Homo sapiens: one gene and its partner. The protein of the gene in region 1 purifies or fractionates together with the protein of each later gene. This does not show direct contact. Each region holds a gene or a part of one and is shown in the gene's direction. Other genes may lie near its edges.

Region 1 (4,407 bases):
GCGGTGGGACGTGTGAGTCTCCCGACCAGGAGCAGGTTGGAGTGTGGGTGCGGCTGTACGCGCTGTGGGCAGGGGCGCAGGCTCTCTAGTCTCGCTGGAGGACTCGAACATCGGTACTTCCGAGACCAGCTGCTGGAAGTCCAGGTCCTGGGTCTGGCTAGCTCCCAGGCCTTGAAGCCCCAGGTCCTGCAGACACACACGACGACGTGTTCGAGAAGGGCCTTGGTACTGGGAGAAGGGGGCGGGGAGCTGAGGGAGTGTTTTTTTCCTTCTGGGCAAGAGAATTAATTGCTCACAGTTGAAAGGCAGGAAGTACCCGCACAGCCTCCCCTCCCCAGATCTGCAGGTCAAGGTCATGTGTGCCCGCATTTGCACAGAGCCTGACTCTGACATCCGTGCACACACACGCCTAGTACCCCTGCACTAGTGCCCCCACGCCCGCCTTCGGAACACACGCCTGGTGCCCAAGTGCCTTGCCTCTCTCCCCACATCTATACCCCAGGGATTTCCCTCCCACCAAATTGAAGCCAGTTGTCTGCTTGGCTTGTCAACCGCCTCCCGCCTCCCGCCTTCCCGATTTCCCGGAGAAAAGCTGCTGCCCTGTGGTAGAGGGTGGAGGAAAGCCCCACCACCCCTGGATGAGGGGGGCCCCAAGACTTGCCCCCAGGGTAGCTAAGACCTCACTCCGAGGGGGCTGCCCCCCTCAGGCCTATGACGGGCAGGTGCAGCTGCAGGGGAAGGGAGGCAGAGCAGTCTCTTCCGGCAGCAGGAAGTGGTAACCGCCTATGGGGAAATTGTGGGGCTGAGCAGAAGGGGAACCGGAGCTGAACTCTCCTCCCCTACCAAGGGGGCCTGGAGGGAACGGCAGCCAGCTGCTGAGGTTCTGCTCTCTGGTGCTGACCTTCCTTCCCCCTCCCCTCTGAACTTCCCACCCCAGCTCTCAAGGCTCCCTGGGGCTCCCTGGGCCTCTCTGGGGGCTGACTTGGGAAGGGAGGACCCCATCGGATGTCTGGGGGAAGGAGGCAACCCAGGGGGAGTCCAGAGCCTGGGGCAGCAATGGTGTTCATGGCCACTGGTACAGTGGGCCAGCGGCCCCGCTGTGAATGGTACAGTCTGGCAGTGGTGACCAGGGACAGCCTTCTGGAGGTGGTGGGATGGCAGCCTGGGATGCCAGCTTACGTTGGGGCTCTCACACCTGCTCCGGCTGCTTGGCAGCGGGGCTTTGGGCACAAGGCAGCCTAGGTGCAGGCCCAATGGGAGGGGACGGCAAGGCCGGGGCACAGTGGGGCTGGAAGGGGCGCCCTGCCCCCCCAGGAGCCCCTCGCGGGCAGTGCCAGCCCTGGGCCGCCCCGCCCCACCGGGAGCCGCGCTGGGGGCGGGGCTGGGCGGAGCCCGCGCAGGGTGCTGGCCGCAGCGCCCCCAAGTCCCGGCGCCGGGCCCGCTCACGGCCGCGTGGGAGCAGTGGGGTTCGACGGCGCGGCCGCGAGGCCGCCATGGCCGCTCACGGGAAGCTGCGGCGGGAGCGGGGGCTGCAGGCTGAGTATGAGACGCAAGTCAAAGGTGAGAGGGCGCCGGGCGCTCCCGGCCCGTTTCCTGCGGAGAACCCAAGGTCGTGAGGGAGCTCCAAGCGTCCCCGCGCTGGCCCAGGGCCCGATGCTCTCCCCAGCGACCTCTGGAGCGGGGGTGGAGGAGGGAGCCTGAGCCCCTTGCCTGCCTCCCGACGCCCATTTGGCCTCAACCGCCTGCCATTTTCCCTTCCTTCTTTCCTGTCTTCCTTCCTTTGGTCTCTGTCCTCCTTGGGTCTACCGCTTCTCACCCAAGGTTCAGTGGAGACACTGGTGGCCGCTGGTAAAAGAGAGCCAGATGCACCAACGTGCCCCTCAGAAGGCAGTATTTTAGCTACAGTGAAGTCAACCAGCTTGATTGGGCTGGGGGGTGAGTAAGGGAGTCCGGGTGAGTGGATTGGTGGAGATCACCTGGCCGTAACCCCACTGCAGTCCCTGGAGCTTCAGCACCTTTTGCCTCCCTTTAGCACTGAGGGGGAGCAGAGGCGAGGGCCACTGTCTCTGGGTCAAGCTGGCGCAGTGAGTCTTGGTTGAGAGATTTAACAGGGCTGGCTTCTCAGCCTTCTGAAATTGAACCTCTGGGTTCTGATAAACACCCATGTGCAAATCACATGCAAATCAGCTTTGCAAATTCTTAGCCAATAGCTTGTGCCCATCTTATTCAGGGCATGGTAACTCTTGCAAAGGAAAGAGGCAGCAGCTCAGTGCCAGCAGCTCGTCCATATCACTCTCAATCACTCCATTTTACCAATTACGGAAACAAGCTCAGAGAGGTGCAGTGACTTGCCCGTGGTCATACAGCACTGCAACTTCTAGGACGTAGAATGCAATGACCCTTGAAGTGCCTTTGAACCCAGAGATGTAGGTTCTAACATCATTATTCAGTGCAAGCAATTTATACCAAAGTATGCTCCAGTCCTCCTTTGGAAAAGGCAGCCTGTGTCCAGAGCCAGCTTGAGGTGACTACACAGGGTGAGCCAGCTTTCCAAGCCTCGCCATCATCTTGCTCAGATGGAGGTAATGATCTCCATCCTGCTTCCCCAAAATGCCATGAAGCTGAAAGACTTGGAAAACTTCAGTCAGCAAATATGGGTCAGTGATTTCACACTGAAAAGTTGGGGTTTCGAGCACGACTGTCTAAGGGTTCCTCACTTGCTCTGGGTCTGCATCCCACACCCTGGAAAAGCTTCCTACCATTCTACAAAGTGGGGTCACTGTCTTGACACCCTAAATTCTCAAAGGTCAGCATAGCGGTGGTTTTGGAGACCATCTTTTCTTCTGTTTTGCTTGTCAGCAGAAGTGAGACCAAATGCCTTGCTCACAGGAAGTGCTGGTGGGGCCCGGGGCCCAGCTCTGTAATTCAGGCAGACATGGATTCCAGCTCTCCTTTTGCCAGATGTTTCCTATACATCTGTGCTGTCCCAGGCCCTGGGAGTATACTGCTGTACCAGAGAGAACCCCGACTCCAGCCCCTCCAGCCCTGGCTTTTTACCCAGAGTAAAAGCAATGATTCAATGAGGACTCCCCTGATTTCAAATGGCGTCAGTGGCCACCCCGCCCTCACATGGCTCACGGGTCTAGTGGGGGAGACATAGACTTTGCATTATGATAATAAGCACTACAAAGGGAAGGAAAGTGCACGGTGCCAAGAAGGGGTCGGAAGAGGGCCAGCCCTAGTTTAGGGGGAGGTCAGGACAGGGTGTGCTGACGAGTTTGTCTGAACTGAGATCCGAAAGCTCTGCCAGGAAAGCCACCAATGCAATCGACTTGCAATTCACAAGTTGCCTGCTCAACACCAGCCGGTGTGCATGCCCGGATCTGGACTAGGACATGGCTTCCAGTCAGCTTTTGCTGCCGGCAGTGATGAAGAAAGGCAGCGGTTCCCTCTGCTGGTTCCTTCTGCACTGTTCAGTTGTCATAAGTCCCCAGGGATTGTATTCCTCTGGGGGAAGCAGGGCAGGGCAGGCTCCAGAGGGCCAGTGAGGCGAGCAGTTGTCTAACACCTTTCTTGGAATGAAATGAAATTTACTTTTATCAAAAAATGTTAAACTGGGCCAGGCGTGGTGGCTCACGTCTGTAATCCCAGCACTTTGGGAGGCCGAGGCGGGCGGATCACCTGAGGTCAGGAGTTCAAGACCCAGTCTGGCCAACATGATGAAACCCTGTCTCTACTAAAAATACAAAAATTAGCTGGGTGTGGTGGTGCGCCCCTGTAGTCCCAGCTACTCGGGAGGCTGAGGCGGGAGAATCGCTTGAACCCGGGAGGCGGAGGTTGCAGTGAGCCGAGATCGCACCACTGTACTCCAGCCTGGGCAACATCCTCCGTCTCAAAACAAAAAATCAAAACAAAACGTTAAACTGATTCAGTGAGGACTCTCCTGATTTCAAATGGCATTAGCGCCCACCCCACCTGGCCTTGGAGCTGACGAGTTAACCACAGGAGGCCAGCCTCGGATAGGATGAAGACACTCTCCATCTGTCTCACTTGGCATCGTGGGCTCTGCCCTGCTCTGTCGGGAGGTCCCGTGCCCCAGGCTTCCACTTACCCAGCTTGATCTGCCGGTGGGAAGAGCTCTCCTGTTCAGTAATTCAATTGGAAGGGTCAGGCTCCTGGGTCCCTCACCTGGCTAGTCTGGTGGGGGCAGGGAGTGGAGGGACAGAGGGATGGGTGACGCATGCAGCCAGGGCTGGGGCACCTGGAGTCAAGGGGGCTGAGACTAGGAAGGGGACATTCTCCAATAGGAGATCAGGGGAGGAGGTAGGGATGCTGGGCAGGCGGAACCCACAGGGTCCCCATGCAACAGCCCCTGGGAAGTCACTGGCGGGACAGAAATCCAATGGG
Region 2 (3,801 bases), on another chromosome or scaffold:
TTTGCTAAACATCTCACAGTGTACAGGACAGGACAGCATCCCCTGAATACAAAGAATTTTCCAGCCCCAAGTACCAATGAACCAAGGTGGAAGAACATCGGTGTATAATAAGTGTCTGATAAATGTCAGTGTAGCCCTAGCTTAAGGTTTTGGTGTTTTTTGTTTCTTGTTTTTCATCTTAAAGGCCCTGAAAAGTCCTGTAGGAAAGAAACACGTGTGATTTTGCTGGTGGGAGCAAGACGTGCCCAAGGCCGGGGCTGGGGAGGTAGAGAGGAGGGTTTGGATTTGGGAGATATCAGGAAGTTGAAAGCCAAGGACGCATTAAATGTGGGGTGAGGGCGTAAAGAAAGGGAGGGAGGGTGATTTCTCACTGCCTTGGGGGCAGGGAGGAGGGGAGGTGTGGGTGAGATGTTGAGAATTGTGGGAGATGCCCAGGGTGCAGTGGGGCCCGTGGCAGCCGCTGTTGCAGTCTTCAGGTGGCCCTGGAAGCCGTCACGGGGTAGGGTGGCCTGGGGTGGGGGTGGGGCATGTCCATTTACAAGGAGACGCCTGTGGGAGGAAGGTTTCTGGAAGAAGGAGGCACTGGGCACAGAGCCCAGGCGAGATACGGGCCCACAGATATGCTTTGGAGGTCCCTGCTGGCCTTGGGGAGACCGGAAGCCATGAGGGCAGCATCGAGCTCAGGGAAATTGAGGGAGAGGTGGAGGGGGGCTGGGAGGGCAGGGAGGAAGTGAGCCTGAAATACCTCTTCTTTCAAGGAGCCAAGATGAGAGGGGCAAAAAGAAGGTCCAAGTCTACATGCGGGTGGCGCGTTAAGTGGGACGGTCCAGTGTGGTTTTAGAAGGTGGGAAAGGAGCCAGGACAGGGAGGGACAGAAGGCAGCCAAGAGTGCCTGGGTCCTCACAGGTGGAGAAGTCCCGTTCAAATATGTTCTGAAGCACTAGAACCCCTTACCCTGTTCTTTCTTTTCTTTTTTTTTCTTTCTTTCTTTTTTTTTTTTTTAAGACAGAGGCTTGCTCTATCACCCAGGCTGGAGTGCAGTGGCGCAATCTCAGCTGGCTGCAACCTCTGCCTCCCAGATTTAAGCGATTCTCCGGCCTCGGCTTCCCGAGTAGCTGGGATTATAGGCGTGTGCCACCATGCCCAGCTCATTTTTGTATTTTTAGTAGAGATGGGGTTTCACCATGTTGACAAGGCTGGTCTTGAACTCCTGACCTTAAAAGATCTGCCTACCTTGTTTTCCCAAAGTGCTGGGATTACAGGCATGAGTCACTGCACCCGGCCCCCACCCCGTTCTTTCAAACACACACACAGAACCCCAATATACAAAACAAGTCTGGGCACAGTGGCTTACCCCTATAATCCCAGCACTTTGGGAAGCCAAGGCAGGTGGATCACTTGAGGCCAGGAAATTCGAAACCAGCCTGAGCAACATGGTGAGGCTTCCATCTTTATAAAAAAATTTAAAAATTGGCTGGGTGTGGTGGCACGTGCCTGCGGTCCCAGCTACTCAGGAGGCTGAGGCAGGGAGGATCCCTTGAGCCCAGAGTTCAGGTTGCAGTGAGCCATGATCGTGCCACTGCACTCCAGCAAAAACTCAAACAAACAGAGAAGGCTGTGCAGGCTGGGCGTGGTGGCTCACGCCTGTAATCCCAGCACTTTGGGAGGCCAAGGTGAGCAGATCGCTTGAGGTCAGGAGTTCAAGACCAGCCTGGCCAAAATGGTGATAACCCTGTTTCTACAACATACAAAAATTAGCCGGGTATGGCAGCATCGCACCTGTAATCCCAGCTACTTGGGAGTCTGAGGCAGGAGAATCATTCGAGCCCGGGAGGCAGAGGTTGCAGTGAGCCAAGATTGCACCACTGCCCTCCAGCCTGGGCGACAGAGAGACTCTTATCTCCAAAAAACCGCAAAAGCTGTGCAGATTAGAACAAGAGCTGGACAGATTCCCTGCTGTTGATTTCAGTCACCTCTTCCCCGACCCCTGCCAAGCCTTCCTGGCCTTCTCCTCTCCACTCTTGGTCCTACGTGGATTTCTGCCCCCAGCCCACTGTCCACCTGGGGCTTCCTCACGCCTCTTCCCATTGTCCTATTTAGGGACCTCAGGCTGTCTCTATGATGTGACCTCACCATCTCTCTAAGCCCCAGCCTTTCACATAATCTGCCTCAAGGATGTCCTCAAAGCCCCTCACATTCAATTTCACCCCTTCACCTCCCATTCCTCCTGCACCCAAGCTCAGTCATTACCCCTCTCTTCCCTCTTCCCCCTCAGACCCAGCAAGGTCCTGGCTACCTCCCTCTCTGTCCCTTGCCTCCTCCCTTCAATCACCAGGTTTACATCACTCAACTCCCTCGATGTGCCTGTGGTGTGCCCACCTCCCCTGCTCGCCTGTGTGCCCCCCACTCATCCCCCCCTGCCTGCAAGCTAAGAGAGGGCGTCCAGTTTGCTGGGTCTAACCCCAGTCCTGGTGTTGAAGAGTTATTTGGCCTGGGGCAAGGGACTTTCCTTCTCTGTGCCTCAGTTTCCTCCTCTGTAACATGGGGGTTGCCAATTGGGCCCTGGCTGCCTCCTAGCGTTGATGTAAGGCTCAGTGAGTCTACATTGGCAAGAGCAGGAAGGCTCTTAGGATTGCCGATGTTATTGTCTTTCCTGGGACCTACAAGAGCCAGTCCAGCTGGCCTGGTATTGGGGGTAGCCTCCCCTCCTTTCCACTCTAAGTGCCCATCAGCTCCCTGAGGCACCGTGTTCTCTCCCACCTGCTGGGCTTTGCATCTGCAGGCCCCTCTGCCTACAACGCCATCACCCCTTCCTCCAGCAAACTCCTGCACATCTGCACTCTCAGCCCAGATCCCCTTTCTCCTTTCCCAATGCCATCCTCCCTGGTCCAGACACACTCTTAATCCGGGCCATGTGGTGTGTGTGTGTGTGTGTGTGTGTGTGTGTTGTATCTGGTGACCCTGACCCCCGTGTTTCCCCTCTATGCCCCCACAGAGCACGTGCCCCCGGAGCTGTGGGAGCCCTTCTATACCGACCAGTACGCGCAGGAGCATGTGAAGCCCCCGGTGACACGGCTGCTGCTCTCAGCCGAGCTCTACTGCAGAGCCTGGCGCCAGGCACTGCCACAGCTTGAAACACCCCCCAACCCCTCTGCACTGCTGGCCCTGCTGGCGCGGAGGGGCACAGTGCCTGCTTTGCCCGAGCGCCCGGTGCGCGAGGCCGACCTGAGGCACCAGCCCATTCTCATGGTAGGCCCCGCCACTGCCTGTTAGACCACGCCTACCATGCTCAGCTCCTCCCCTCAAGCTCCTCCCGCCAGTCCTGGCTCCTCCCAAGTTCCCTCTATCAGTCTTGGCTCCTTTCAAGCTTTGTCGATTAAGCCTAGCTCCTCCCATCAGGCTTGGCTCCTCCCCCAGGTTCCTCCCACCAGGCCTGGCTCCTCCCCTCAAGCGCTATTAAGCCTAGTTCCTCCCACGAGGTCTGGCTCCTCCCCTCAAGCGCTATCCATTAAGCCTAGCTCCTATCAGTCTTGGCTCCTTCCCTTAAGCTATGTCCATCAAACCTAGCTCCTCCTATCATCAGTCTTGGCTCTGTCCCTTAAGCTCTGTCCATCAAACCTAGCTCCTCCCACCAGTCCAGGCTCCTCCCCTCAAGCTCTGTTCATTAAGCCTAGCTCTTCCCCCCAGCCCTGGCTCCTCCCCTCAAGCTCTTCCCATCAAGCCTGGCCCCTCCCATCAAACCCAGCTCCCCAAAAAGGCGCTACTCTGGCCCTTGAGGATTTGTGTACACAGCCCACCCTA

The links.
Region 2: the proteins of ARHGAP4 (region 1) and CAMSAP3 purify together in Homo sapiens (affinity purification with mass spectrometry, with the first as the bait; one large-scale study listed by BioGRID). This does not show direct contact.

Annotation. Positions count from the first base shown.
Region 1 is NC_000023.11:153,923,289-153,927,695, reverse strand, and holds the start of ARHGAP4 (rho GTPase-activating protein 4), read left to right. Parts: upstream 1-1,431; 5' UTR 1,432-1,493; coding exon 1,494-1,560; intron 1,561-4,407. UniProt on the Homo sapiens protein: Inhibitory effect on stress fiber organization. May down-regulate Rho-like GTPase in hematopoietic cells.
Region 2 is NC_000019.10:7,602,231-7,606,031, forward strand, and holds part of CAMSAP3 (calmodulin-regulated spectrin-associated protein 3), read left to right. Parts: intron 1-2,995; coding exon 2,996-3,249; intron 3,250-3,801. UniProt on the Homo sapiens protein: Key microtubule-organizing protein that specifically binds the minus-end of non-centrosomal microtubules and regulates their dynamics and organization.